3 separate regions of the Homo sapiens genome follow, and all the other regions are linked to region 1. Evidence: fine-mapped expression QTL. A gene starts in region 1. Each other region holds a variant in brackets. All regions are shown on one strand. Distances are from middle to middle. Region 1 holds the start of KCNC4 (potassium voltage-gated channel subfamily C member 4). Region 2 has its middle 14 kb from the start of PROK1. Region 3 has its middle 53 kb from the start of KCNC4.

The links.
Region 2: its variant is fine-mapped to the expression of KCNC4 in gastroesophageal junction (GTEx, PIP above 0.99).
Region 3: its variant is fine-mapped to the expression of KCNC4 in lung (TOPMed, PIP above 0.99). The same link has a PIP of 0.9 or more in skeletal muscle.

The regions. Positions count from the first base shown.
Region 1 is chr1:110,205,968-110,216,446 of GRCh38, reverse strand. It overlaps KCNC4 (potassium voltage-gated channel subfamily C member 4), which reads right to left and starts at 6,133. Exons shown (of 4, transcript NM_001039574.3): 1 at 4,270-6,133. The coding sequence starts at 4,947. KCNC4-DT (KCNC4 divergent transcript) reads left to right here and starts at 6,460. Exons shown (of 2, transcript NR_046546.1): 1 at 6,460-6,836; 2 at 7,243-7,997. RefSeq lists enhancers at 1,217-1,296, 3,648-4,536 and silencers at 5,774-6,453, 8,416-8,465, 8,476-8,535.
Region 2 is chr1:110,459,771-110,470,215 of GRCh38, reverse strand. No RefSeq gene overlaps it. Among named protein-coding and RNA genes, the nearest start is that of PROK1, 14 kb to the right of the region's middle. The variant CTCTG/G (reference allele first, on the strand shown) is at 6,332.
Region 3 is chr1:110,257,751-110,268,229 of GRCh38, reverse strand. It overlaps a transcript of KCNC4 not described here. Among named protein-coding and RNA genes, the nearest start is that of KCNC4, 53 kb to the right of the region's middle. RefSeq lists an enhancer at 5,283-5,362. The variant C/T (reference allele first, on the strand shown) is at 4,701.

The sequences.
Region 1 (10,479 bases):
GAGGATGCCCTGCGGGCAGGGCCTGCAGGGAGTCCTGCAGCCTTCAGCCTGGCCCCTGCCTGCTCCTCAGGAAGGAGGTGGAGGGGCTGCCCCGGGCAGGCTTGGCACTGCCCTCCTGGGGAGCTCAGAAAGCCAGGGTACTGCCCTCCTGGGCTCAGGTTCCTGGTTCACCCTAGCTCAGAGGGCACAGCATCAGTGAGTCCTGGCCCTCACTTTAAAGCCTGTCGTGATCACTGACCTGTCCCCCAGGCAATGCCCGGACCAGAGAAGCCAGGGAACTTCAGAAGCGGGCAGGCAGGAATGCAGCTCTGCTCCTTTCCTAGAAGGCCTTGGTTTCATGCTCTGCCTGGGCCAGGGAGCTTCCCTTAGTCTTTTCTCCCAGCCACGCCTCCCTTCATTTTTCCTATGGAAATCCCACAGTGAGAAGAGAGGTTATCCTTGACCAATTCTGGGGAGTGAGAAGTAAAGGAACAGATAAGAGCAGAGTGGAGGAAGAAGCTCTCCAGTGAGGGGCCACCCTCTGGAAACCAGAGATCCTCTCTGGGCAGGAGCCAGAGGCCATAGGAGGAGCACAGACTTAGATTGATGAGACCTAGGTTTGGATCCTAGTTCTACCACAAGTGGTGCGACCTTGAGAAAGCCCCACCAGGCCTGTTTCCTTATCTGTATACTGATACACAGATGTTAACAATATCTGCCTCACCTAGGCCAGATGAGTAGTAGCAGAAAGCACAGGCCAAGCCTCCCACATAGTAACTGACACTTAACAAAGGGGAAGACCCTGCTGGAGCTGCCTTCCTGGAGCAGGGAGTTCCTGTGGGTCCCCTCCTCTACTCAAAAGGGAAACATCACAGGAAAAATGTGCTGATTTAGCCAAAGGAGAGGAACTGTAATCCTTAATAAGGCTGATAGCTGAGCTAAAGCCAGCCCTGCCCTGGAGACCTTGGAGACTAGGGTAGGGGAAGGGCATCCTGGCCCCATTCTCCAGGCCTCTTGTCTGCTCTCAGAAAAGAAGGTGCAGGTTTCTAAAGTTTCGGATGCTGCCAAACCTCCACTGGGCCCCCTGAGGCTGTGAAGTCTCCACGGTGAGCCTTCACTCTGCCCTGCCCCTCGTACCTGTTCCCAGCTCAGGCCACAGAAACGGAACCACAGCAGCAGCTGCCCATGGGCCCAGCACAGTGGAGCAGGGGTGAGCATCCCAGTCCAGGAGCCTGCCTGAGCGGAACAGCTCCTTGGGCCAGGCCTGTAGCTAGGCAACAGGCTCTCATAATCAGCTCAGTTCACTTTCCATTTGTATCGTTTTGCTCCTGTCATAACGCACTACTCAAATGACCAGGTTGCTGTGTGCGAAAGGACGCCTCAGGGCAGAGCACTGCTCCTCTCTCCCTCTTCGCCCACCACCCCACAGTGCTGCGGGCCCTTCCAGGGAGGAGGTAGCTGTGAGCGAGGGAAGGTAGCACATATACCGGGGGGAACAGGGCTGGGAAGGATGGGACAGTGTGACAAGCCAGGGGCAAATGGAGGGGGGAAAGTGCAGCCCCAGAACTCCCCGCATGGCATAGTACCCTCAGGCCTGGAGGGGTAATACAGTAAGTCTTCCTTCTGACGTCTCCATCTGCCCCTGGGTTTTCTGATGTCATCCACAGGAGGTACAGAACCTCAGAAGGACATTTCTCAGGCTACAGTAAGAAACAAGCTCTCTGCCTCAAAAACAGCCTAGTTCAGTGGAAAGAAGGTGTTGTAATCACAAGAGCAAGGGCTTGGGAGTCAGGGACTCTGGCTTTGATTCAAAGCCTGGCCACTATCTGGCTGTGTGATCTCAGGCAAGTTGTTTACCTTCTCACAGCCTCAATCTATTAAACGGGGATAATCACCGGGTTTTAAGTTTATTGGGAGGATTAGAGATTAATGTAAAGTATATACAGCAATGTATCTGTCTGGGGTGCTCAATAATGAGCAGTTATTCATTAATTTGTAAAAATTATGTATTCCCACTTGTGTGTCCCGGGAGCAGGTGAGGGTTGCCTTTGCCTGGGCTCCTGAGCAGGAGGCAAGTCCTCTTTTAGTGCATGTGTTGGCCAGAGCTCCATCCAGATATTCACATCAGGATGAACAACCAGAAGGCTGGAAACTAGGGGTGGTTTCCTGCCTCTGCTATTAGTTAAATGTCTTTGGCAAGAAACTTAATGTCTCTGAATCCTGGTTTTCTCAATGTTTAAATGGAAGAATTAACCTTGCTCCATCATAAACTTCAAGACCTCAACTGGAATGCCTGGGCTGATGTGATTCCATGTCAAAGGGGCAAAGCACCCTGGGTTCCTGGGAAGACTTCCAGGGGCAGGCCAGGCTCTGAGCTTACTCAAAGAGGCCCCCTGGCTTGGCCATTCAGCAGTGAGTTAGGAAGAAAATAAACTCAATGATATGTGGGGTGCCACCTGGAATTCCAGAGGGGAAGAAGAGCAGGTGAAAAGCCCCTAGAAGTCCCAGAATGCTCAGAAATAGGGCCTAGCTCCCCTAACCACCTCATCTCATCCCTGCTTCCCTGGTTTGTCCCCTTTCCCCATCTCTATCTCTATCTCTCCTCCCCGACCCCCAACTTTGAAAGAGTCTGAATGATGTGTGCCTGCCCTCTCTCCCCTAATGCAGACAGCCAAGTGCTAACACTAGCAAGGTTAGTGACCTACATGAGAAGTCTGTAGAACTCACAGCAGACCCAGGCCAGGGGCATCACTATGCCCTCACCTTCTTAGCCAGTCTCAGGGCTGCAAGGAAAGAAACCCAGACAGTTGCCTCTAGCTTTGTTGTCAGTCCTGAGAAAGATCCCTGCCTTCTCGTGGCTGCCTGCAGCCCCAGCCCGGTATGCCATGGCCCCTGAGACCTCTGCTCCTCCCTTCTCTTCCAGGCAGAAGATGCATCTGCCCTGGCCTGGCATTTATGCCAGCCTGGCTTTTCCCTGCAGGCCTGTTCCCCAATTCCCTACCCTGCCTTCTTCTATGACTAGGAAGGAGTCCAGCACAGGGGTGCTGGGAAAGGGAGGGTGCTCTGAGACTCATTAACATGACAATTTGGGATGCTGGAGGAACCAACCAGGTTCCACAGCAAGCAGCAGTCCCCAGACCCAACAAGTTACATTGCTCTTTCCTGTCTCCCAGACAGACTCCAGCCAGGCTTTAGGCTGCTGACCATGAGATCCGACACCAGCCCCCAGAGTTTTCTTTCTTTAAAGAATCTAAAGCCATCCTTCAGGGATTTTTTTTTTTTTTTTTTTTTTTTTTTAGCTGTCGAAGCATAATGGGGGAAGCACCTCCCCCGTTCTCCCCTTTCACCTAAAGGAGTTAGGGAAACTGGATTTACTTGGGGAGGAGGCGGTAGGTCTTGCCTAAATCAACCTGTGCTTCCCCCTTCCCTCATACACCCATTTCAAGCAGTAACCTGAACCAGGGCTTTCTGGAAAGACAGTTTGTGCTGCAGCAGAAAGAAAAGAAGCGGCAACAAAAATCTGGTATCATCACCAGGAAGCCTGTGGCTGGCCACTGGCCGTGGGAGCCTGCAGAGCCTAGAACGCTAGGCCCTTCGTGTTTAATTCTCCTCTCACCCCAGCTGAGGCCAGGACATCCCAGGTGTGCAGGAAGCCTCAGGGGCATGGTATCCTCCCTGGCAGAAAGAATGCCTTTCTTAAACCTGGAAAGGAGGCCGGATTGTGGTCTCAGCTTTGCCTCTTCTGAGCTTAAGATGCTGAAGCCTATATCCTCCTCTCTGAAGTGCATAGTTGTGAGCACACTGAGCTGCTGGGAGGATGTAAATGAGGTGGCACGGCATGGAAGCATCTAACAAAACCCACCCTAGTTTCCTTCCTCTCAACCCTGCCTGCCCCCATCAGAAGACCAAATTCCAGCTCTTCCAGGACCGTAGTCCTGTGTGGAGTGGAGGGCAGCTGAAGATAGGGCAGCCTGTGCAGACCAAAGAAGGGGGTGGAGGAGCTGAGCTGGGCACCCCACTCACTGGAGGGGATGCGGCAAAGCAGGCAGCTGGGACTGGGTCCAAGTAGTAAGTCAAGTGTGTGCAATCTCCTGATGGAGCGTGCAGGGGAGAGGGTGGGAGTGTGTAATTCCCCTGCGAGCCACGGAGGGGGGTTGAGAGGAAGGCGGGAACAATCTGCGGTGGTAAGGTAAGTCAGGCTCGGTCCCTGCTCCTCCCGGCCCCTACCCACCACCCACCACGGACCCCTTGCAGACCCAAGATGGGGAGACACGGGCTCCTGCCACTCACCCTAGCGGCCCGGGAGGAGTAGGGATCCTCGAAGAGCGCCCACATGCGGGGCTGCCAGCCGCGGCAGCCCCCAGACCCGGCGCCATGGCCCGCGCCTCCCTCGTGGGGGCCCAGTCGCTGCAGGGCCAGCTCCCGCTCATCGTCGCCGGCCTCGTCGCTGGGCCCCGCGCCGCTGCCGCCTCCGTCCGGGCTCTCGAAGATGTCGAGCGCCTCCTCGGCGTCGCGGTGCTGCCGGTAGGTCATCCAGCAGCAGGGTTCCACGTCGGTCTCGTCGATGCCCCAGAAGGTGAGCTCCTCTTCGAAGAGCGGCCCGCACACGTCCGCGGGGCAGTGCAGCTTGCCGGTGCGGTAGTAGTTGAGCACGTAGGCGAAGACGCCCGGGTGCCTGTCGAAGAAGAACTCGCAGCCCCCGCCGCCGCTGCTGCCGCTGCTACCCACACCGCCGCCATCGGTCTCGGGCCGGCCCCCGCCGTCGGGGTCGGCCAGCCAGGCGAGGCGGGTTCCCGGTAGGGTGCGCAGGGTGCTGCGGTAGGTCTCATGTCGCGTGCCGCCCACGTTGATGATGATCTTCTCCGACGCCTCGCCCTTGGCCATCTCCTCCTTCAGACATGTTTTGGACGGAGGCTTGTTCCCCGACTTGCGCCCGCGGTAGGAGGAGACACACACCGAGCTGATCATAAGAAGCGCTGCGGGGCTCCGGCTTGGGGCGGCCGCTGCCCTCCAAACACCCTTCCCGAGGAGGCAGCGTCAGACGGGGGAGGGGGAGGAGACGAAGAGGAGGCAGGAGGCGGTGGCGGCCCCCTCTGCGGCTTGGGCTTGCCCCTGCCTATCCCCCTAGGACGCGGAGCGGGAGGAGTTGGATTTCTCCGGTACACAGGTGGTTGGGGTTAGGGCAGGAAGCTCCGGAGAGAGGGAGGCGCAGAGAGGGAGGACCCGGGGAAGTAGAAGCAAGCACACACGCGGTCCCCCGCTACGACGGGACACACAAACGCTCTGGGCCGGGGACACGCCCCCGCCTTCACCCCGACCAAAGACGAGGAAGCGCACAGTCCACGCGCACCGCGAAGGTCCGGGGCGCTCGCGCTCACACGGGCCACCCTCCGGCTCCAAGACCGCACCAAGCCCCGGAATAGCCGGCTTCCCCGCAGCGGCGGCAGCGCAGCAGCAACAAGTCCTCCGAGCGGCTGCCGGGGCCAGGCCGACACTCTCACGGCAGCCGGAGCTCCGTGGGCCCGGGCTGCTTGCGGTCAACACGAGGCGGCGGCGGCGGCATGTGGCCTCTTCCCCCCATTCATAAATCCAGCGCCGGGCGAGGAAGGCAGGCGGGGCAGAGCAGAGAGCGGCGGCCGGGCGGGCGGGGGCTGCGCAGGGCGAGGCGGCAGCTGGAAAACAAGCGCGCCCGCAGGAGCGAGCCTCGGGTCCTGCGTCCGCGGCTGGGAGCTGCGCCGGACCGGGCGCAGCGCTGCGGGGGCCGCGCTGGGGCGGGGGTGCCTCAGACGGGGCGTCCTGCGCGGCGCCGAGCCTGGGGGGCGGGGCCGCTCTGGGGAGCCGGGCTCTGGGCACTGGCGAAGGTGTACCGGGGGCGGCGGCCGAGCGGCCAAGGACACCTGCAGGCTTCCCGGGCCGCGCGGAGAGGGAGCCTCAGCGCAACGCCCCGGCGCCTGGTTCCTGCGATCTGGCGGCGCTGGGAGCCACGCCATCTACGCGTCTGCCCATCTCCGGGCGGGGCGCCGGCCTTGGCTCGCGCGCGGCAGGGGGCGGGCGCGAGGTGGCATAGGGGAGGGGGCGCCTCGGCGCCGGTGGGCTGGGGCCCTAGGGGCTCATGGTCTCCCTCCGGCGCTGGCAGCGGCCGCCACGCCCCAGTGGCGCCTTTTCCTCCGGGGCCCCGCCTCGCCCAGACGCGCCCTTCGCGGGGCGGGGTGGGCGGGGCGCGGCGCAGCGCGGGGCCGATCCGACTCACTGCAGGCCCTGGCGACCGAGCGCAGTCTTCCTCCCCGGAGCCGAGCCCCAACCAAGCGCGTCACCTCCTCGCCGCCAGTGCCCAGCCCAGCGCGCCGCCCCTGCGCGCTTCCGCCGGCAACCCCTCCCGCCCCCCTCAGCCCTGCTCCGCGCCTCCCCCGGGCCCGCAGCTCCTCCCACCGCAGCCCGCTGACACCGAAGCGCTCTCGACCCCTGACCTCTAACCTCCGCCCGGCTCTTCTTGCTTCGTCCCTCGCCCCCTCCCCGCCAAGCTGGTCGCACTGTTGCCGTTTCACTGCGGCTGACGGAAGGCCAAGGAAGAAAGAGGGTAGAGACGCTGTCGCGAGGATCAGGCTGCCCTCTCCTTTCCCAGGGACCGTGTTGGGGCCTTCTGACCACCCCGCCCCGCATCCTGCGCCTCGGAGGCCCAACGTAGCCCAAGACACCCATGGTCTTGATGCTCTCCGCCTCTGTCCCAGCCACCAAAGTCCCCGCGATGGAATGGAGGACGGGGTGGCCTTGGGCAGAGAAGCGCTTCTTGTGCCGGATGGAAGGAAACCGTAGCTCTGGCTGTGTTCATCGCGAAATGTTTTATGGATGTGGAGTGGGTGGGTGGCCCTGAAAAGTCATTAGTTAAAGCCTTTGCTCGTCATTGCTCTGGGGTCCACATAGGAAATGCCCGTGTCCTGCCTCATGACCCCTTCCTGTTTCTACTCTTATTCTACCCATTACAATTTGACTTTGCCTGTGTATATGTCTCCTCTCCCCTCCCTAACCCTGAGCTCCTGCAGGCGGCATTGTGCTTTTTCATCTTGATAGCTCCCACAGTGCCTGCCTCTGAGAACCTGTTTGCTAAGTGATTGAGAAGCTGCCATACCCAAAACGTAGGCACCAACAGGACTTTACTGGCCCTATCCCAAGAGCAATTTCCAGATTCATTTGTTTTTGTTAAGTCCAGAACCTATTTTACATCTTCATATTAATCCCCATTGGGTTTTTTTTTCTTTTTTACAGCTTCAGGCAGCCTCCATGCCTGTCTGGATGATGTAAAGAGATCTTGAGGCAGAAATGAAAGGTGAATGACACACCTGCCCTGGACACCTGTGCACCTTCCCAGTTCCAGATCAGGCAGTACCTAGCTCAACTGAGAAAAACAAGACAAGGGCCTATGTGTGTCTCAGGAAAGGTTAAAAGCTCAGTGCCAATGCAAGGGATTTTTACAAGCAAAAGTCTCATTATTAATGAGGCCAGAAAACCAAAATGACAATGATCTTTGATGATCTGTACTGACACGCAGGGGAGGTGAGTTAATCAGAAACACACATTTACTGGCACCCCCTTTGTGCCCAGTCCCTGCTCCTCGAAACTGATGTTTGTATTTCAGAGTTTAGCTGTCTTTGAGTTTGCTGCAGTGAAAAGAAATATCCCAAGTGTGACTGGGAAGAGAAGACCCGGGACAGGCCAGAAACTGGAGTGAGGAAGAAAGAACCACAGAATATTAATGTAATGAATAACTTTCAAGTCCTATCTGGTCCGTGTCCTGGCAAAGTCCCTTGGGGTCTCTCCCCTGCTTTCCGTTCATCAGGATGACTGAGCTCAGTAATTGTAACAAAGGGAGTGTAGTAGGCAAGGGGACAAAACCCATAGTATCCCACCCCTGATTGACTTATTAACTCAATGAACACTTATTGAATACCTACGATATGCCAGAAGCAGTTCCGGGTACTGGAAATACATCAGTGAATAAAACAGCCACTCATCCTAGTAAATCTGCCCAACTGGTGCTTCCACTCTGCGGTGCTTGTGGATAGTGATGAGCACCTGGGGAGATGGGTAAAGGGAGAAAGCTGCCAGGGAAAAAGGAGGCCAAGAGGGAAGGGAGGAAGATCAGAAAGTTGGGACACAGGCATAGGAACCTAGGAAGAGCTGACAAAAACAGAGGGCCCAGCCTGAGAGAGGCAGCTGGGTAAAGGTGCATGGGGCCAGGACTCCCAGCTCTGTGCACTGACCAGCTCGGGAGAGGGGAGCTCAGCCTCAGTCCTGAGGCCTCCAGAGAATGCCTCACCCTTGCTGAAGGTTTATTCTAGAACTCTGGGCTCACCTGTTACGTGTACCTCTCTGAGGGAGTCGATATGCTGCAGTTAGCACTATGGGACTTGTCCCCATCATTTCTTTGTGTGAGGTCTTGGTGTTCCCTCAAAACACAGAGCCGGGGAAGGATAGGAGAGCCCCCTGCCCAGGCTACTGTGACACAGCCTACCATGGATGTGAGGGTGCTGCCCTCTGGTGGTGCTAGAACATCCTGGCTCCAGACCTCGCCCTGAGCTCTGGGGGCTGTGATGTGGGCAGATGGGGTGGCAGCTGATTCTGGGCTTCCTGTTGATTCCAGGACCTCAGGTACATCTTCTAGCCTAACTCTGCCATTGGGACTCTGCCTACTCCCTCCCTTCTTCATTCCTCCAAGACCTTGATACCTGACAGGCTTAAGCAAGACCACAAAGCAGCCACTATTGGAAATTCCTAGTTCCCCAAGCTTCTTTCCCTCATTTTCACCTTTTCTCTTTTGTCCTCTCCTTAGTGCCCTGGCTTCTTCAGGCTGTCAGGGAAGAGCACCTGTCTGAAAGCCAGTTCACAGAAGGTGTCAGCCACAGCGGGTTTCCCTCATCAGGGGTGAGGGTGTGGTGAAAGAATAGGAAGAGAGGGCCATGGGAGATTCTAAAGGGGCACCGATGGAGGCTGTCAAGCACCTGCACCCTTTCCAGGCCCCCCCTCCACCCGCATAATAAGGTCCTCACCCTCTGAGTGCCGACGCTGACCCTGTCCGTAGGAAGCTGAAAGCCTGAAATCAAAGCCGTTTACCCTTCCCCTTTCCCCACTGGGAGCTTTGTATGGGCTCAGCCTCTTTAGGATGACTGGAGCCATCCAATCTCCTCTCCATCTTCCTTCTTTGAAACCTGTTTGTGGTGAGGGGCTCCAGGCCAAGGCAAGGTTCTATCCATTGGTGCTCACACTTTCCCTTTTTGGTATTCTAGCTCCTGCCAGGGACTGACCCTCCTTCAGGTCCAGGCCAAGGAGCCAGCATCCTTTCCCAGCATGCCTCACTCTCTCCCAGCCTGGAAAATTGAATTGCTTTATCAGACTCATTAGAGGGTGATAGGGCCTCCCCGCTCATGGGGGAACAAGAGAAGGGAAGGCAAGAGCAGGCTGGCAGCCTCCTGTCTGCGTCTCAGCTCACTTCATCCTGCCTCCCCCAACCCCAAGCAGCCTGCAGAGACTTGCAGGCTCCAAATCAAATGTGAGAGCCTTCTTTGGGGGGAGGGGGGTTGGTGGGGGAGGGGCTCTGGGGAGAACCTAGCCCTAGTAATTCAGGTCTTGTGAAGATCAGTAGAATGGCTCTGCCTCAGGACTGAAAGCAGGGTTGGGTTGCTGTGGTAATCCCAGTGAAGTTGTATCTGGGGCTCAAAGGTGGCCTTTGAAGGCCCAGCTCTTAAAGAGAAGAGATCAGAAGCTCGGGCCTGGGCAGGGCTCAGGGCCTCATACACTATGGACCTGGAGTCATAGGGTTGGAGGGGACCTGAGTGTTAGCTCATGGACACCTTCCCCCCGCTTAGGGATGTCAGGCCTAAGCAGCAGCAGCGAACTCTGAGAGACGGAGCTAGGGCTGGTGTTGGGCCAAGGACAGAGAACGATACGGGGGCCACCAGCTGAGTGGACCCTAGAGGCCTCCTTGTTTAAGGCTCCTGGGCTGGGAACTCAGCCTGCATCCAGACAGCACACTCCCGCCACCGCGCCTGCCACATGCACGCTAGCCCAGGGTCCGGCTGGCAAGACCTCTTGACACTTAGCATTTCTCCATCTAGAAAAGTAGAGATTGCTCCCACCTGGGCTAAGTTCCAGGAAAAACTGGTTCATTCCATTAGAGGAGTTAATTAGTCCTGATGGGCCCAGTCCCCTCCAGCAATATCCTGGGGAAAGGGGAAGCAGGTGTCTGGAGAGACAGGCCAAACTCAGGTTCCTCTTGGGTGCTCCTGAAGTCCAGGGATTCTTCCCTGCTTGGGTCAGCCCTGGGCAGAATGGAGGGACCCAGAACCCAGGCAGCTCAGACCCAGGGACAGAGAGCAGATCCCCACTGAGTCTTTATGCTCTGCAGCCAGGACTGTGCCTGGCATGGATCAATCTTTGTAAGGGTTTGTGGTTGAATGACAGGCATAGTCTTCTCCCATCTCAAGGTTTCTTCCCACCTAAGATGAT
Region 2 (10,445 bases), 250 kb before region 1:
CAATGAGATATCACATCACACACATTAGGATGGCTGCTATCAAAAGAAGGGAATAGGGGAAGAAGGAAGGGAAGGGAGGAGGGAAGGAAGGAAAAGGAGGGAGGGAAGGAAGAAGGGAAGGAAGGAAGGGAGAGAAAACGAGTGTTAGCAAATACTTAGAGAAGCTGGAAACCTTGTATATTGCTGGTATGCATGTGAAATCGTGCAGCCACTATGGAAAACAGTATGGCAATTCCTCAAAAAATTAAAAGTAGAACACTGTATGATTCAATAATTCCACTTGTGGGATTCTTCAGTTCACTCAGATGAATTGAAAGCTGGGTTCCAAAAAGATATTTGTATACCCATGTTTGTAGCAGCATTATGCACAATAGCCAAAAGGTAGGATCAAGTGTCCATCCACAGAGGAATGGATAAACAAAATGTGGCATATGTGTGTATGTCTGTGTGTGTGTGTGTGTGTGTGTGTGTATATATATATATGAATATTATTCAGTCTTAAAAAGAAAGGACATTCTAACACGTGCTACAAAATTGATGAATCTTGAAGATGCTATGTTAAGTGAGATAAGCCAGTCACAAAAAGACAAATACTGTATGATTCCGCTTATGTGAAGCACACAGAGGAGTCAAATTCAGAGACAGAAAGTAGAATGGTGGTTTCCAGGAGCTGGGACCAGGGAGAGAATGGGGATTTATTGTTTAATGGGTACAGAGTTTCAGTTTGGGAAGATGAAAAATTTCTGGAAATGGATGGTGGTGATGTTTGCCCAAGAACATGAATTTACTCAATGCTGCTGAACCATACCCTTAAAAATGATTAAAATGGTAACTTCTATGTCACATATACAACACAGTAAAAAAATAGGTTTACTTGTAAATAAAAATCAGTATACTCTTATGAACCAAATATCATAAACTATAATCTAATGAATGGAATATGCACCTTTTGAAAACTCAGAATATAAAGAGGGACACCTTCAGGTTTTATGTTCTGTCTTTGAACATCTGCAAAACTCACTCCTCCCTGGCCTGGTCACTGTGAAAAGTAGAGGGACAGGGTCTCAATCATGGGGTTTTCAGGAGTAGAGGCGACCTTGGCAATGTCTCTTACACAGCCCTGGGTCCCTGAGTGCCCACTGTGTGCTCAGCGCCCCTGCTCTGCCCTTGTGACAGTCATCCCTCCCAGCCTCGGCGTCCTCATCTGGAAACATCTTCTACCTTGTAGGTTTTTTGTGATGATCAGTGAGGCCATGCAAGGTGCCTGGCAACAGCAGGCACTCGATGAATGCAAGCTCTTATTATTCTCCTCTCATCTAGTCATCACCAAGAGCATGCAGGGTGGTTGCTATTATCTATATTTTACAAATGAGAAAAATGAAGCTTAAAGAACTTAAGTCGTTACTCAGCTCCAAGATGAGAAGACAGTGTTGCCAGGATTTCAATCCAGGACCAGTTCAACTCCAGAATCCATGATCTTTCTACCCCAGCCTCTCAGGCCTCATTTAACAGATAAGAAACATGAGGCTCAGTGACATTGGCAAGGGTGAAAGCCCAGATGACCACAGGGGCCAGGCAGGTAATGGAGAAGAATATGTTAGCTGATGTAAAAAAAAAAAAAAAATCGCCTACCAGAGATTCTACCAAATTATATCTATTTTTACTAAACTAAGGAGTAGGCATGTAACATTTTATGGGCCTACAAAATACTAGAGATTGTGCTTCAAATTCTAAATTTAAAAATAAATGTTGAAAAATAATTTTAGGAGAAACCAGATCAAAAAAGAAAAAAATGCAATTAATTTAATTATCTTCCAAATTGCTTCATTTCAGATGTCTCACTATGTTGCCCAGGCTGGTCTCGAACTCCTGGCCTCAAGCAATCCTCCCACCTCAGCCTCCCAAAGTTCTGGGATAACAAGCATGAGCCACCAGGCCCAGTGTCCTTCCAATTTTTTTTTTTTTTTTTTTTTTGAGACAGAGTCTCACTCTGTCACCAGGCTGGAGTGCAGCGGCGCAATCTCGGCTCACTGCAACCTCGGCCTGCCAGGTTCAAGCGATTCTCCTGCCTCAGCCTCCTGAGTAGCTGGGATTACGGCGCACACCATCAGGCCTGGCTAATTTTTGTATTTTTAATAGAGACGGGGTTTCACCATGTTGGCCAGGATGGTCTCGATCTCCTGACCTCGTGATCCGCCTGCCTCGGCCTCCCAAACTGCTGGGATTGCAGGTGCGAGCCAACGCACCTGGCCCCAATTTATTTTTTAAGCATAATGCAGGCCAACACCTGCAGACCAAATTGTCTGCAGGTCAGATGCTAACCCCAGCCACCAGATGGCCACCCTGAGGAAGGTATAGTGGAGGCCAAGATCAATGGCGGGTTCAGGAACATTTGAAAAGAAAGATAATATCACAAGTTAGTGCCACTGTGGGAACCCACACTAGGGATGCCAGGATTTGCCATTTTCCAAGAGATACAGGAAATGTGGATGTGGGGAGAAATATACCAGCTTTGAAATAAGAGCAACCATTTGTTTTTGCACTGTGCAGACAAAATAGCAGAGGTCTATAGGGCAAGCCTCTCCTCCCACCCAGTGACAGTCTACAGGATGAGCCACTTCACATATTGGCAAAGCCCAGACTAAAGAAAAATCTCCAGACTCCCAGGCCGTGATGGAACCAACCAGTGTCTTCTCCAGCCTGGACCAGTCCAGAATGGGAGCAGGAGGTCCCGAGGGGAAAGGATGGAAGGGGGAAGGAGACTGGCGGATGCCCAACCCCGACAGTCCCAGCTGAAGGAGACAGGTGTACAGACACTGGGGCATCAAACTCTGACTCTGACTTCAGGGTTCAATTATTTTCTTCTGTCAGATTTTTGCCCAAAGCTATACCCAAAGATTTTCAGTAATCCCACGTCAGTGGAAGGACTGCACAACATCTAGCCACATTAATTAAAGAGGATTTTTTTCCTCTGAGACGAACGTGTGTTAAAAATATCAAATATTAATCACTGGCAACATTAATTTATAATAACGCTTGTCTCCCTCTCAGCTTCTAAGTTGACATCTGGCATGACTGCTTTGAAACTAACACCCGCTCCATTGCAGGAATTATAAATAGCCTGAGTTAAAATCTTCACCTTGAACTGAACAGACTGACTCCACGGGGTGGTTTACGAATGAAGAGGGCTGCAGCATGCAGTAAAATCCGGGGTGGGTCTACTTGGGGTAACAGTCAAAGAATTTTTTTAAGGCAGCAATCCTGAAGCAGGGAAGGGTCAGGGAGAGGGGTATGAGCACAGAGGGCCCTGCCCTGCTTCCTCCTCATGGGGCAGGGTGCCCAGGTGCAGGGCTGCAGGAGGCCAGCCTCACTCCCACTTGGCCCATTTCATGAGCCATCAGCGGAGGGGGTGGGCACAGGCTGTTCTATTCCACCCTGATTAAGTGCACAATCCAGTTTCTATACTTGAGTTTTGAGGATTGGTTGGTGCAGACACTGTCTTTTATTGAAGAGAGGGCAGAGCCCACTTTATATAAAGAGAAGAAAAAATTCATCTATCAGCCTACAAAGCACGTTCACTCCATAAGCCTATCTAGTAGTGATATTCACAGTTACTGTGGCTCCTCTCTGTGCCAGCCTGGGGCTTGCTCCTCGTATTTAGTCCTCACAACAACATCACAAGATAAGCTCTAATGGGAACCTATTTTACCAATGAGGAAATTGAGTTAGAGGAGCAAATTCCCCCAGGTCCTGTAGCTAGGCAGTTGGCGGGTGGAGCAGGATTCAAACCAAGAAGAGTGAGTGAATGGGGCCTTTTTGCTTCACTCCTTTCCAACATTTCTCAAGCTGCTAAAACTCTAGCTTGCCAGACTTCCTCTCCAGAAATCCAGATCCAGTGGCTCTGGGATGCGGCACAGGACCCTGGGTACTTCACAAGCACCCCAGGTGAGTTTAACCCTAGGGGAGTTTGGGGGAGCACTGCCGAGGGTGCCCTCGTGACAGCCTGTGGGCAGCCAGGGGTTACTGTTCCTGTTTACCAGACGTGGAAACAGACCCTGACTCCTCAGGGTGCTGAGATGAGACTTTTGGTCCCAGGACCGCCAAGAGGACCTCTGACCACCAGCCTGAAGGTCAGAGAGAGGACAGAGCAGGAAGACAGGGCGCCTTGTAGAGTGGGAAATAGTGGGGACAGAGTCTGAGAAATAGGGTGGGAGACGTTGGGGGCAGTATATGGTCCCACTTCTGATTGCATCCAGCTCCTCAAGGGCTCAGGGGACCTCTGGGGCAACCCAGAAAAGCCCCTTGTGGCCTACATGCTTTGCAGTTAGGCCACCTCCAGGGGACACTGGGGCCCCAACTTGTCCAACTAAGACTGCAACAGGGAGATAAGGCAAGAACCCTCTCTCTCATCTTTCCCTGGCTGGGGCCAAATTCCCGTGGGTGCTTAGCTCCCCTGAGACCCCTCACAGGCTCTTTCCTCTGACCCTACCTCCCTGGGCCTGCACCAGAGCCTCTTCTCAGGCCCCTTCTTGAAGGCTAATGAGACCAGGCATGGCCAGCCTGACACTGCAGGCTCTCAAATGTCTCATTGTCCTCCCCTCACGCTGACAGTAAGCTGCAGGCTGCCTCTGCCCATGGGGCTACTGCTACTAAGATACCACCCCCAGCAGCTCCTGCAGTGGGGCAGCTCCCAGGAGAGGGTCCTGGGCCCCGCCTTCTGTTGCCCTGACTCTCTGACACCCCCTGGAGACCCTGAGCATTGCATCTGGCAGCCCAGGTCCTTGTCTCATCCCTTCCCAGCTGAGCCCCAGATGGGTCCAGGGAGTGTGTATGTAGAACACATGTTGCCTCCTGGTCTGGGCCTCAGAGCAGCCAGCTCAGCCTCCTCACCTGCAAGGCTTTCCAGAGTCCAGGTGGGGGCCCAGCTGTTTGCCTTAAAGTGCACGGAAATGACTGCCTTTCAAGGGACCTCCTCTCTCTCCTGCGCAACTGCTCCTCTCTGTATTCTTTTTCCCCCTTTGCACTTTGATGACTCAGGTTTTCACAGGCACAATAGTTCCCCCTTTGAAACCTAATTCTGGATGGGCACAGACCCAGGTGCGCACACACACCCTTCTTCCTCCCTCTCCCGGGCTTGCTAGTCCTTGCTTTAGCATGAAGACTACCCTCTATCTTAGCTGGAACTTCTCCTAATGGAAACTAGCCTCTCTGCCACTTGGAAAGAAAAGTAGAATTTTCATTATTTGTTTAACTGATTTCCTTCAAAGGTTGGGGTGATGGGTTAGGGTAGTGTTTCTCTGGGAGTGGGAGGTACAAGGAGCACCTGCATCAGAGTCCAAGCTGTAGAGGGGCTTGTTGAAGGCCCCACAGAAGCAGAGTCTTCCTTTGGTGCTTGGCAGTAACGTCTTCCTTTGGTGCTTGGGAACTGGTGGTCTAGGGGGTGAGCAACATTCCCTAGCACTGCCTCCTTCTAGAAGGGAGTCGCAGCAACAGTGAGGCCTGTCTCAGGGAACACACATGGTTTGGGAGGTTTGATTTGGACACAATCTGAGAGGAGCCAGGACAGACTTCAAAGCCCACTCTCCTTATGCTTTTTCTACCAAAAAAAAAAAAAGAATAGCACAGTATTAAGATCATAGCCCATATTGAGCAAACATTCCATTTTACTGTGAAACAGTGACTCATATGTTTAAGCAAGGTATTAAGAAGTACTTAGATAAGATTTGTGTATCTGTGTTCCCAAATGGAGCTGTTATTGAGCTCTGCCTACATAAACCTGTGCTTCTAAACTTCAAGATAATAACAGAACATGATCTGAACAAACTGATTTCTTCCTACCATGTTCAGCTTCTGGGGAATTGAAGCACATCCGAGAAAAGATTGTTCGTTCCTTCCTGGACATCTTATTGGTTTACCTCACTGAAGAGATCCCTCCAGGTAATGCTAGTGTGGTGTGCTGGTTACAACACGTAGGTGCTATTTTTATTATTGCCATTGTACAGATGGGGAAACTGAGGTACTGAGAGGTTTAGTAACTTTGGGTCCAAAGTCTCTAGTAAGCATCCAAACTAGGGTTCGAACTCAGGCAGTCTGTGCAGTGAACCACTGTGCTAACCCCCCGTCAGGAAACATAAGGGAGCTTTGCCGCTAATTTGATGAGAAATGCCAATCGAGCAAAATGTAAAATAACAAGAACATGTCAAGCTGCCATTTGACATATTTGTTTACTTAATCTTTGGGGTTTAGCTTTGAGACAGAATTTCACAGGCTCCTCCATGACTCGTCTCCGTCAGAAATGTGCCCACGTCTTCTTACTCACACCAGTGTTTCT[CTCTG/G]TTTAGATCCAGTTAATCCTCCTCATTAATCTTCAGCTCCCAAATAAAGGCCCCTCTGTCCTCACTAGACCCAGAATATTTTCCTGCCCTGTACCAGGCCAGCCCCCGCAGGAGCTCCGAATCCTTTTGAGAACCACACTCGTGTTTTTCTCCCAAGGTACACAGAAACAAATATGTCTGTGACTGACGCGCAGCAGAGTCTATCGAGTAGGCAGGGGGCTGAGACAGGAAAGGATCTTTTGGACAAAAGGACCATAAATCATATCCTTCCTGTGACCTGGACCAAGTGGTCTTCCCAAGACCCAAGCACTGCCCCTCAGGTGAGCAGAGAACTGGGACAGGACACAGCAGAGTGGCAGGGACCTAGGGTGTGGCTGCAGACCATGGCTGTGTGCAGGCCCCAGCAGAGCCCTTTGTCATAAATATGGGATGGAAAACCTCAGCAGGGAAGCTGACTCTTTCGTTCACCTAAAGTTGTTCACCTCAGTGATTCTGTGGCTTTGGGCTTCTGAGTCTAGCCATGGCCCCAACCAGGGTTGGAGCAAGAGGTGGCAACCCATCTTTCAACCTTATTCCTTGTCAGGGTCAGCTGTCCAGGGTGTAGTTCTAAAGGGGGCACAAAACATCCCTGCAGTCAATAGAAGACTCAGAGCCAGTTAAGGCCTGTGCCAGATAACTCAGCCACTACATAGGGATCTCTCTGTTCCCACCAGGGTGGGCAGTGCCCTCCAGTGGAAAACAAAAATTCCTTGCACTCATCTTAAGATGCAGTCCCAGGAAACTGAAACCCCAGACTGCAGAGTGCACAGTATAGTGCTTTTGTTCTGCTCATAGGCAGTTTCTTTAATCATCTAAATTGAAAACAGTTTAGTATGCCATTGGTGTAAAAGATGTTTGGGGTAGAAAACCACATATAACAAATGCCTTATTTGGTACATTAGCAAAGAAATACACAGTTTGGGTTAATGTCAAATCGTTCTCTTCAGCCTACAAAACAAATATTAAATGAACATTTTTTAAAATATCCATTTGAAGGAATATCAAGTCACAGTCCAGCCCAGAACACCCACCCTCCTCACTCCTGATGTGCCCCAGGGCTTGAGGATCTCCTGGGTCCCTGGAAGCACCAAAACTCAGAAACTGTGAGCCCCGGCCCCTTCCTGACCTCATCTTTTCGATTCTACAAACCGAAGTTGTAGAGCTATTTTTTTTTCTTTTTTACTTTTTGGATTTTAGTATTTTTAAAACAGCTTTATGGTGATATAATTTACATACCAGACCATTCACCCATTTAAAATATACATTTCAAATAATTTTTAGGATACTCACAGAGTTGTGCCACCATGCCTACTAACTAATTTTGAACATTCTTATGGCTCCAAAAAGAACATTAACAGTCACCGCCTATTTTCCTACCTGCAGCCCACCCCAGCCCTGGGCAACAGCTAATCTACTTTCTGTCTCTACAGAGTTACCTATTCAGGACATTTCCCATAAATAGAATTATACAAGATGTGGCCTTCTGTGACTGGCTCTTTCACCCAGCATGATGTTTTCAAGGTTCCTCCATGTTATGGTGTATATCAATACTTCATTCTTTTTCATGGCTGCATAATACTCCATTGTGTGGATATAGTGTGTTTTATTCATTCACTTGTCATTCGATGGAGAAAACCTGTTTGTTTAACAATGGCTCTTATTGTTTTCCTTTCCAGCTCCCAATCAGAACAGGTGTCCCCAAAGATACCCAGACAGAGAATGTGCCCCCAGGCCACCTTGTGCTTCCTTCCCCCACTGGTAGAATCTGATTTTTTGACAACCCAGGCGAATCCTCAAGGTTGACTCTTGGGCTAGACTCACAGGTCAAGGCCGACTACTGGGCCAGGCGCAGTGGCTCACACCTGTAATCCCAGTGCTTTGGGAGGCCAAGGCAGGAGGAATGCTTGAGACCTGGAGTTTGAGACCAGCCTGGGCAGTATATGGGTCACATTTTCAAGTAGCAATTTCTGGAACTCAGTGATTGTCACTGTCAAGGGTATGAAGAAGTAGGAATGCTGCTGTGGTCTGAATGTCCCCCTGAATTTATGTGTTGAAATTTAACCACCCATGCAATAATATTAAGAGGTGGAGCCTTGCGGGTGATTAGGTCAGAATAGGATCTGCCCTTGTGAATGGGATTAGTGCCCTAATAAAAGGGCTCCAGGGAACTAGCCAGCCCCTTTTGCCCTTCTACCTTCTGCCATATGAGGATAAAAAGAAAGCCTTGAGCAGACACTGAATCTGCTGGTGCCTTGATCTTGGACTTCTCAGCCTCCAGAATTATGAGAAATACATTTCTGTTCTTCATAAATTACTCGGTCACAGGTATTTTGTTATAGCAGCAGAAACGGAGTAAGACAAACATCAAGTGTTGCCCTCCATAGCTCGAGGGTCTTGGCCCCACCTCAGCCCCTGCCCAAGCACAGCCACCCTAGACAAAACACACACTCTAAGTAAAATCCAGCTGTCATTCGTCCTGCAAATTCAACTCTGAAGCAGGTCCCCAACCTCGGAGCCTCTGCTGAGCTGACCTTTCCCTTTGGCTTTGGGAGGCTTCCTGCTCCTCCTTGGGTCTCACCTCTGGCCACTGCCTCCTGGGGCCTCAGAAGGGGATCACTGGACAGGAGGAACAGCAGTCAGCATGCACTCACCTGTGCCTGCTCAGTCATCAGCCAGTTGGCATTCTATGGACTACACTGTCCCATGTTCACTGTTAAATATTCAGGTGGAGCTGGATTTAGCAGCAGATTTCCACTTAATCTCCTTTGAGTGTTTCAGGCCCTCAGGAGAGCTCCCAGGATAACTGCTCTGGCGGCTGCCCTCCTCTCAGTCTGTGTCTAGCCCTTCCTCCTTGGTGGCGAGGGCTCCAGGCTCTAGCCCACCCCGGCCTCCCTCTGGATACCAGGGAGAGGGTGGAAGCCTTGACCAAGGTGAATGACAGAAATGCAGATTTGGGGAGGGGATCGAATGATGAAAAATCCTCAGAGAGGCAGCTCTTGCCGTTCATGCTGTGTCCCAAGGATACACAAATGAAGGAAGGGGACACTCAATAGTGTTATTCCGACCCCTGCCCACCTCCACTTTCTCGATCCTTGAGAAGCTGTGAGAGGGGATGCCCTCAGCCTTTCCTAAAATCCCAGCAGGAAGAGGACAGCAGCTCCGAAAAAAGAAGTTTCCAGGATGGCACAGGGCCCAAGTAGCAATTAAGCATTTTTCGTGTGGTCCATAGGGTGGCAGACTTCTTTCCACAAACAGAAGTGCCGTCCCTCTAAACCTGTTACTGAGACTAATGTTTGAGGATAGCTGCAGAATGGTCCCTATCTGCTTTGAGGAGTGGCCTCTGAGTCGCCCATCTTTTCCACTTCAGCTCCCCTGTGCTGTCCCCACTTCAACCACTAGATGGTAGCAGACACCACCAGTTGGTGAGGAAAGTGTTGGTGCAAAATAGGAGGTAAAGGCTGCAATTGAAGGCTCCTCCCTATCTTGAAGCTATGTCAGTTTCATCTGTTTCTAATTTAATTTAATTGCATCTAATTCATTTTTCTTATAGGTACATTCTTATAAGTAAATTATTTTTATATTTATGAAGAACATATTCCTGAATATAAAGAATACTCACAAATGTATTCTTCTTAACCCCCCGAGCCTCTCCTTTCTCCGCCCTTTTGTCTTCAGTAATAGGAATGGGGACCAATTCTACATTCCTCAAAATTCGGATAATAAGAAATGAGAATGGTCTCTACAAAAATAAAAATAAAAATTAGGCAGGCTTGGCCAGGTACAGTGGCTCATGCCTATAATCCCAGCGCTTTGGGAGTCCGAGGCAGGCAGATCACTTGAGGCCAGGAGTTCAAGACCAGCCTGGACAACATGGCTAAACCCCATCTCTACTAAAAATACAAAAATTAGCTAGGCATGGTGGTGTGTGCCTGTAATCTCAGCTACTTGGGAGGCTGAGGCACGAGAATCACTGGAGCTCAGGAGACAGAGGCTGCAATGAGCTGAGATCGTGCCACTGCACTCCAGCCTGGGCAAGAGCGAGACTCTGTCTCAAGAAAAAAAAAAAATTAG
Region 3 (10,479 bases), 52 kb before region 1:
TGCCTTTGTGCAGCTGAGTCAGGTACTGGGAGGGGGTCTCAAGACCAGGTGGCATCTATCTCTTGGTCTGCCAAAATGCCAAATCTGAAAAAAAATCTCAAAAATATCTCAGATACATATGGGGAAGTTCTTTAGGTTTCACAATAGTGATGTTATATAGGAATAGCTGGGGAAGTTATAAATCTTGTGACCCCTGCTTACATGACTCGGGGGTAGTAAAAAACTTCTAGAAAAGCATGCTAAGTCATGGCAGGTTATTGCTTAACTATGCCTATTCTTCAGCAAAGTTAGAGCCCTTACCATGATTCTAACCATGTATTACGAATGCGACTTCAATCTCTGAACAAGGAAGGGGCAGTTTTTCTGGCCTCAAAGTTTAACTGTAAACCAAATTCCTCTCATAGTTATATTGGCCTCCAGACTAGAATAAGCAAAAAACCAATTTAGCCTGTGAGGTTAGAAGCAAGATGGAGTCTGTCATGTTAGATTTCTCTCATTACTTATAATTCTGCAAAGGCGATTTCAGTCCCTTCCTGGTGGTGAGATACATAGGAAGTGGGGCAAGGAGGATTAAGAATGACAGAATGTAGAGGTTCGCATCTTGCTAAAAGGAACAGAATAAGATGATGGCTAAGGGCATAACCTAATCCTAAGAGAGGCTGAAATGAAGTTTTGCTGGCCAGGGAAGGAAGCAGGAGCCGGATTGTAAATGTACTTAGGAGTGTGTTCATGTGGGCGGTGGAGGCATTGGGGAGTGGTGCTATCTGGAATGTACGGATTCCAGAAGGACATGGAGGCAGCGGGGAATAAGGACGGGCCTCGTATCAGCTGAACTGAGGTGTGTGCAGCACAGCACTGAGCCAGAAATGTACTTAGAGCCTCAGAGTCTATTCATTCCCTTCAAAGAAAACCCCTAGACAGCAACTGCAGTATAAATAGCAAACAAGCAAGCACATGGTTCTTCTGCATCAGAATGGAGAAAAGACGTTGATCCTGAGCAACCTGGAGTCCAGCAGCAGCCCTCCTGGGCCCCAAACCTTCCCAGTGGCCTCCTCAGCTCTCAGAAAACCAGCACCTTTCTCCCCAGCAAAGCCCACCCTACACAGACTGCTGAGCCTCCCACAGCCAAACAAGTGATGAATAGCAGCCCTCTCCCCAAGGGTTCTGCCCACAGAGGCGTGCGGGCTGCTTGCTAAATGGAAGCTACAAGACCTCTGGGGCTGCTGCAGTTTGTTTTGCTGCAGGCCTCTTGGCAGATGGTGTTTGCTCAGCCTGCCCTGCAAGCCAAAGTGAGAAAGTGGGATGCTTCAAGAGAACTAACCAGGAGCTAAGAAGGAGACATCAGAAGGGGCAAACATCCCCATGACAATGGCACATCAAGGCACGGGGTCCTCGGGTCCGGGGAACACAGACTTTAGGTCTCTCCTGGTATTCGGGTCCCTTGGGGTACAGATGCCAAGACTTAAGGGGAAGAAATGGGGCCCATACAAAGAGCAAGGGGGCCAATCTGGATCAAGAATGGCAACAACAGCTGTGGCAGACTTATAGCTAGGAGCAGAGGCTGGAGCTAGGCTGGGTTCAAATCCCAGCCCTGCCACTTAAAGGTTCTGTGCCCTTGGGCAAGTCGTTTTACCTTTCCTCATTAGCAAAATGAGAATAGTAATAGTACCTACTTCCTAGGGTTGCTAGGGAGACTAAAGGAGTTATCCCATGTAAAGTGCTTAGAGCAAGCCTGGCTGTTCCTAAGGACTCAGTGAGGGTTACCAACAATGAATGACTGTTTCCAAAGGGTCTTCCAAAAACCTTGCAGAAATTCTTGCTGCTTCTCATTAGGAAAGTGATGTCCTGGGGCTGGATTTATTTGTGGGACCAGGTTTGTTCTGCACTCCAGCCCCTCCCCTCCTCACTCAGCCCTCCAGGGTGCAGTTTCGGTGTTGCGGCTATGAATGTTTCAATATCTGATCCTTTCAGTCAACTGAGACTCTCTCCCCATGCAACAGTGTTGGGATCTGGTTACCACAAAGCCAGTACTTGTGTCCCTGATCAGCCACTTAACTTGCTTCCCTGCCCATTATTTCTCCCCCTATTTCCAGAGCTGTCGGGGGAATTGGGTGAATTGTACTTAAGCAGAAGAATGCCTGCATCTATTAAATGCTCCACAGTGCCTCTTCTGCCTTCATGGAACTTCAAGAGGCAGTCCCCACCCTGTCCCTAGCTCTCTATGTGAAAAGGGAACAAGGCTACATGTATTTCTTTTGTATTCCTGCGGTGCTCTGAGGTTTAGTGTTATCACATGGTAGGCTGGGTCTATCTGTGCTGAAAGAATGAATGAATGAACAAATGACAAACAAGGTAGGAAGGTAGGTGCAACAAGTCACTTGGGAGGGTCAACAAAGGAACCAAGGGCCTCTCTGGGGCTGGAGCACCACCAGCCCAGTTTCTCCGTGTTTTCAGGAGGAGAGGGTCTAGTGCTGGGCAGGACCTACCCTGTCCTACCCACCTCCAAGGGCCTCTTCCCTGGCTCTGAGTTCCTCTTCGGGGCCCCAGAACAGGCTCCCTGGTGCTAAAATGGAAGATGATGACTATTGGGCCTTTCTCTCCAAACCAGAGATGGTTAACTTTTTGACATAAGTACTGTTGTAATGCAAGAAACTCAAGCAGCCCAGAGGAGTGCAGAGTTCCTCAGTGTTGCCTGGGAACAGGGGCCTGGATGACTTCTTGGGCAGCCCTCTCTAAAAGCTCCTTTGGGAGCCCTCTTCTAGCAGCCTAAAACCTGACTGCTAGGGGCCATCCTCTGGGTGGGGAATATTTTATTTTATTTTATTTTATTTTATTTTATTTTATTTTATTTTATTTTATTTTATTTTATTTTATTTATGTTTTATTTCTGCTGCTGGAAACTCAGGGAGCCTGAGAGTTCTACTGTTCACTCATCAGCCACTTGTAAACTTATTTTTCCGAGGCTTCTAGCCTAGGAAGAACCTGAACACTATAAACGAGATCTTTCTCTGAAGATGCTCAGAGTGTGGGGGAAGGGACAGGGTAAAAGAAGTTACTAGTATAGCATCAATAAATTCTGTTTTGATTGCAAGTGGTTTTGTACTTTATTTTCTTTCACTCTCCCCCACCTTTTTTTTTTTTTTTTTCTGAGACAGAGTCTTGGTTCTGTTGCCCAGGCTGGAGTGCAGTGGCACAATCTCGGCTCACTGCAACCTCCGCCTCCCGGGTTCAAGTGATTCTCCCGCCCCAGCCTCCGAGTAGTTGAGATTACAGGTGTGTGCCACCATGCCTGGACAATTTTTGTATTTTTAGTAGAGATGGGGTTTCACCGTGTTGACCAGGCTGGTTTCGAACTCCCGACCTTAAGCCATCCGCCTGTCTTGGCCTCCCAAAGTGCTGGAATTACAGGCATGAGCCACTGCGCCCAGCCAGCTCTCTCCCTTCTTTCTCCCCCTCCTTCTCCAGAGACGAGTAGGGATCCCTCTTAGGGGTCTAAATAAAGAAAAATCTTGAGTTCCTTCCAGGAAAATTGCAGGCTCCTAGCTAGCCTTGAGAAGTAAATAAGCAACTTGGTAAGCAGGAAGGTAACAGTGGCTTAAAACAATAGCCAAGGAAGTTAAAGTCATGTTTGGTTCCCTTTAGAAACTAAAGATAACATCTCAACATATGTTCCTGAGTTGTTTTTCAGAAACCCGGACCCCTACTAAATGGATCTGCTGGCATATCGACCTCAGATAAGGGGGGACTAAGGACTGAACTCTGACCTCTGTTCTTTCTTCTAAAATTCTTCCTGAAGGGCTTGGAGGAGGTCATGCCCATGAGCCAGAGCTAATAATTCTTTTCTGCTTGCTTCCAAATTTTTAGACAAAGCCTCCTTAACCAATCACAAATCAAAAAAATCTTTGAATCCACCTATGACCTGTTCCTCTCTCCTCCACTTTGAGATGTCTTGCCTTTTTAGGTCAAACCAATGCACAGACTCTATGTATTGATTTATGACTTTGCCTGTAACCTCCGTCTCCTTGCCTTCAAAAACTCTTACCTGTAAGCCACTGAGGACTTCAGGGTTTAAGCATTAGTGGCCCAATTCTCCTTGCTTGGTGCCCTACAATAAATGCCTCGGTTTCTTTCATTGCAGTCCCAATGTCAGTGTTTGGCTTTACTGCCCGGGGCCAGAAGACACCTGTTCAGTTAAAAAAACACCTTTTCTCTTTTTTTGTATGCAAAGTCCCTTTTGGAATTCTTCAGTTGTACCAAGAATAACATGGGAAAGAGATTCCCCCACCCCATCCATTTGACCAGGGAGAATGGGGGAGCTTTGTACCCAGAGGAGAGAAAAAGCCCAGAGGTAGAGATGCTTGAGAAGGACTCTCCCCAAATGGAGACCCCCATTCAGCTCCCCCCCCTCACTGAAAGCTTGCTAGAGATTGTTTTTTTTTTAGAGAGGAAGGCTGGTTGCCTTCCAGGCCTCAATTTGTTCCCCAAAGTAGTCTTTCCCACGGGAAGAACTGTTTCTTATTCTATGTATAAAACTGGATTTTTGAACCTCTCAATCAGTCTCCCATATGAAATGTACCCTCTAAACTGGAGTCCTTTATGTAAGGGCCACTTTGAGCCCCAGCAACACTGTGGGTCAGATGATGACCCTGTTTGGAGTGGCGTACATATTTCTGGGTGTCTGTCTGTCTGTGTTGCCCAAA[C/T]GTGCTCCTATTTAACCTTGATCATCCTTTCTGGCTGAAGGATGCCAAAGTGAATATCGGTCATTCTATCTCCAGCAGCAATCTTAGACAGCCAAGGAAATGTCAACCCTAGGAAATAAACAGCCCTAATATTAGCCTAGATGTGTGGACATGTTTCCTCAGCAGATGTGGGAAAAAAAAAAACCCTTAAATTCTCATGTATTTTTAAAGCATGCCTCATGCACCAAAATCTCCCAAGATGTCACTAAATGTATTTTGGCCCAGAACAGCTGTTATTACCGTATCTCTTACCCAAGGGATGAGCCAGCATCCAGCCCTCAGTTTCCTGGGCTCAGGATAGCTGGCTGTCCCCAAAACAGGTTGAAAAGCCCCACCACTGCTGACCCACATGTTCCCTTTGCCACCAGGCAGGCAGCCATTCTAGAACCACAGCACATGGCAACTCCCTCCACCACAGAAAAATGTGCAAGTGACAGATGCAAACAGGTCATGAAACAGACACCAGAGGTCATGCTGTCACCAATGAGCATTTCCTGACAGGGCCTGTGCACAGCATCCTCTGTTGTTCACAGGGCTATCCTAGGTGATGGGGTTACGCGGAGTCTCACCACAGATGCTCAAGGCTTGACAGGCGGGAAAGACAGGACGTCCTCATCACGACAAATGCTTATTATCAGTCCTGACTGTGCAGGTAAGCACTATAGGAAAGCCCTCAGAGGAGGAAAAGACCAAAAGGAGGGGGTGAGGGCCGAAGAAATGGGACCTAAGAAGTACCTTGTCACAAATCTAGACCTCCACTTAGTAGGGGAGAGGAAGGGCTTCTGGAGAAGTATTGGAGAAAGGTGGGTTTGACAAGGTTGATAGAGACAGTGAGGCAGAAGGACAGCTGTATTGCTAAGAAATTAGAGCTTATCCTATGGGCTTCTGGGAGCCAGAGTAGGTCAAGTAAATGGACCTTAAAATGTATGATACAAGAACTGGAAACTCCCTATTGGCCTGAACTTCAAATTCACTTTCACAAATGCAGCGGCTGCAGATCAAAGAGGTAGGCACTGGGGCAGGGTAGGGTTGGGGAAGTTAGGGAAGAGGAAAGGCACAGAAAGAAGAAGATGCAGTCACTGAGCTCCCAGTTGCATCAAAAGACAAAGTACTCCATAAGAAGCCAGAGGTTGGCTGGGTGCAGCGGCTCATGCCTGTAATCCCAGCGCTCAAGGATGGCTTGAGGTCAGGTGTTCAAGATAAGAAGCCAGAAGTCTAAGGCAGTATACAATAAGCATCACATAATTGCTATAGCACCCAGAGTCTGTTCTTTTAAGCAAACAAATATTTTTATAACTTTGTATTTTATAAGCATTTATTATATAATTATATCTTTATAGTTCTAATAAAATGGAATCAAAACATATGGCCTCATTCACAAGATTTTAAAATAAGGTAGAAAATTTTGTTTCCAATCCTTTTTTAAGTGTACAGGTATGAGAGATTTAAAGGTATTACAAAACAGTGCTTTGGGCAAAATTGTGTAATGATGGAAACATCTAAACATCTGTTTTCAAATGTTTTTTCCTTAGCATGTCATCAATTTTTAAAAGATAATAAAGCATCACCTTTAAAATGGAATGCTTGTTGTTTTGTATAAGAAAAACAAGTAACTTTTTAATTTTGATAAACCTTAAGTACTTGCCATGAGAAAATTGGTAAACCTTTATGGGAATCAAAAGACCTCCCTGGTCACTCCATATCCCATTTCAAAGTGTTATAAGAATTCTGTTATATTTTACAGACCTTCTTTTTATAAAATTAACATCATCAATGACAACACAGCATTTTGTGCACATATGGCTTTAACTTCTTTGCTGCCCAGTAAAGGAATATTAAGTGTGGTTCTATCTTTGTAACCACACCAGATCCCTCTTTTTATTCCAGTCAATACTTTTTCTATAAAGCGTTTTTATTAGGGAAGTCATTTACTCTTTTCCCACTCATCCTCCCTTTAGTGGCTCAAAAATAGTGCTTTATCATATAATTCTCGTATTTCAACAAAATGTAGCAAATCCCATTAACTGAGATGTTAGAAATCTCTATACTTTAAATCAAATATATAGCAGATTTCCTATCAGGCATACTTTGTCCTAATATTCATTTAAAATTTTTTCAGCAATGTTTTTTATGCATCTGTCAATAATGCCTGCTGACAAAAGATTGCATTTTTTATTGCCATATTGTTTTTCATGTCTTATTTCAGCCATTTTTCATGGTAGAAAAAGCAAGTGTTTCCCTAAGGGCATATGGCTTTTTGTGTTTTGCAATTACTAAGAACACTAAAGGATTCACGCATATGTTTATCATTAGATTTAATGAAATGTTAAATACCGGATTAAGCATTGTAATGACTTCAAGCATCAATGAAAAAATTGAGAAAGTTTTTCTTCATGGTCTAGATGCTTAATTTTTAAATATCTTACTAATTGGGAAATTTTCTGCTATCATTAGCTAATATCTCAAGACAAAAACTCTTAGGACAATATCCTTCATTAACAATAATAAATGGCAACCATGTTTCAGAGAATTGTTTTTGCTTTTTATTTATTTATTTTTTTGAGACGGAGTCTCGCTGCGTCACCCAGGCTGGAGTGCAGTGGCGCGATCTCGGCTCACTGCAAGCTCCGCCTCCCCGGTTCACACCATTCTCCTCCCTCAGCCTCCCGAGTAGCTGGGACTACAAGCGCACGTCTCCGTGCCCGGCTAATTTTTTGTATTTTTAGTAGAGATGGGGTTTCACCGTGTTAGCCAGGATTGTCTCGATCTCCTGACCTCGTGATCCACCCACCTCGACCTCCCAAAGAGACAATTGTTTTTTAAATGTTGCATTTTTCTGTCAACTTCTTTTCAGATCTGATTGGATTCTCATTGCTTTTGCCTTATAAAGTGGCTAACAAAGAACTTATAAAGAAAGAAAAGGGTCACCCCAGAAATATTCTTTTTGTTTTTTATGCTTTTACTATTGATATTATCTCCAACCCGAATTTCTTTGCAGGAATCTTTTAAAGACATTTGTTCATTTTGTGAAAGTTATATAGACACATGGTAGGCATTTGAAAAGATGTTGGTTGATTGAGAAAAACCTGAAACCTGATAGATGATATATTCATCATTTCCTCTTTTTTTCTCACACTATCTAGTCTAAGATCATCAATTCCTCTTTACAAAGTCCTAACATCTTACAGATCCCAAAGGATTTTCAAGATCTGCAATCCATGGGGCTTTCAGTGGGAAGCACCCTTATGCCCTAAATGGTTTGATAAAGAGAGGGAAAAGCCCCCCTGTTCCTAGTTCAGGAGGATCAAATTTTTAATTCTCAGGGACTTCTCAGCCAAGATGTATTTTCTTGTATTCCACATTGTCTCTTGAGAGGAGTAAAAACAATCCATGGTATTTTATTCTTCACTTTCCCCCATAGTGATAAATACAGATGAACAGTCAAAGAGCTCAGCCTCATCTGAGATGCATGCCCAGGCCTGCTGGGCGTTCTGCTGGGACAATGCAGCCTGGCCAGGTCTTACCTAAGAGGAAGTGAGCCTGAGGACAGAACCTGGACAGGAAATGCACATTGGTTGGCGAGTCTGCAATCACACAAAAAGGCACCCTCTTTGACAATCTTTAGGCATCACTTAAAATTGTATTTGGCTCCCTGTACTAGAAACCCAACCATGCTGGCTTACCCAAATGAGGCTTTTATTTGTGTCATGTAACAAGAAATCAGGAAGTAGATAGTCCAGAGATGTTGTCAAGAAAGTCAAGAAGAACCTCAGATCCTTCTAGCTCCTGCCCCACCATCCTAGCATAGAGCTTTCCTTTTCAGGAGTGTGAGACAGCTGCTTCATTCCCAGGCATCTCCTCCTCCAGGCAGGAAGAAGGGGAAGGGTGAGGCCAAATGCAGCCTCTTGGGCCTTTCTTTGCAGGCACACATACCCTTCCCAGAGCCCTGAACCTACATTTCAAGGTCCAGCACTGTGAACATCTGCAAGAGAGTCTGAGAGATCAGGTATCAACTGAACACATTACAGCCCCAAGTAAAATTGATGTCCATTTAGTAAGATGAAGGGGAGGAAAGATTCTGGAATAAGTAGCAATGTCTGGGCTCTTCTCATGAATTAAGCACCCATGCTTCAATTCCATATGGAATAGACTGATCCTTGCTTGTCCACCGTCCCCTCTCAAACACCTGTTCATCATGCCTTAGACAAGCAGCACACTGAGAGAAAGTGTTCCGGTGGGTTCCCCGTGTGCCCTAGTCACATGCTGAGCTGGCCTACGATTCATTCCTGAACAATTTCCTTGGGGACAGTAGGGGTCAGGATGCCTGGGCCCAGCCTTTGGCTTACTGTGGGGAAAAGGAGACTCCTCCAGGTCCTTGACCTACCTTCTGGGTGCTTGAGGAGGATACCTCCGATTCACAAATAAACAGAGCCATCTGTGACAGGCTGTGCAAAGGCTGAGCCTTACCCACAGAGCCACAGCATCCACCCCTGCTATTCAGCTCTGAGTCCAGATGGGCATGCAGCCCAGAAGCCCCTGAGGGCATTGGATTTCAGCGTGGAGAAGACCTTGTGTGGGAGGTACTCCCAGACAAGAGGAGATGGGAGCAGGAGGAGGGGAGGCTGAGGGCTGGGGAGCTGGCTGTGCATGAAGCTGTGATTCTCATCAGTGCCTTGGAGGATTCACCACTTCTGCTCCATGCCTCCTCATAGGGTGATATGGTAGATTTCATTCAAGCTGAACAGAATTGATATTTTGCTCAAATCCTGTTTTAAGAATTTTTGTGCCTTCCTCGTAAAAGCAGCATAGCCTAGGTGACTCTGGGCAGGGTTAATAGTCATCTGTGTGAATGATTTGAAGGAGGATGGATGGGTGTTTTTCTCTCATTGTGAAATCAACACATACACGCTGAAGAAAATTTAGAAAGTATAGAACAATTTTAAGAAGCAGGAAATGGCCAGGCACTGTGGCTTACCCCTGTAATCCCAGCACTTTGGGAGGCTGAGGCGGGCGGATCATGAGGTCAAGAGATCGAGACCATCCTGGCCAATGTGGTGAAACCTCGTCTCTACTAAAAGTACAAAGATTAGCTGGGCATGGTGGCGTGTGCCTGTAGTCCCAGCTACTCAGGAGGCGGAGGCAGGAGAATCGCTTGAACCCAGGAGGCGGAGGTTGCAGTGAGCCGAGATCACGCCACTGTACTCCAGCCTGGCAAAAGAGCAAGACTCCGTCTCAAAAAAAAGAAGCAGGAAACAAAAACCCTTCATAAATCTTAGGAGAAATACAAATCTAGATACAGATTCTAGATATATGAATAGTATCTCCATTTAGTGCCTAGGAAAGTGTCTATGGCAGAAATTTCTGGTTGCTCCCAATATCATTCTTCATTCCTACCACAAGCTCAAATCCATTTAGCATAGCAATGTGCCCAGGTAAAAGACAACATTTCTTAACCTCCCTTACTGGCAAGTGCGAAAGGATTATAAGTAGAACTTGGATGGGATTGCAGAAAGACTCCTAACGGGGCAGACAGGTCAGGCATGCATGTCATGTCCTTTTGTTCCTTTCTGTTCTCACTTTTCCTGCCTGAAATATGGATGTGATGGCTAACACACCAGCTGTAGTCTTGGACATTTTAGGATTAAAGCTGTGTGCAAAAGTCAGTGATGCAGAAAGCTAGAAGAAAGCTGCATCCCTGATGACTTGGTTAGAGCTGCCATACCAGCCCTGGAACACCTGC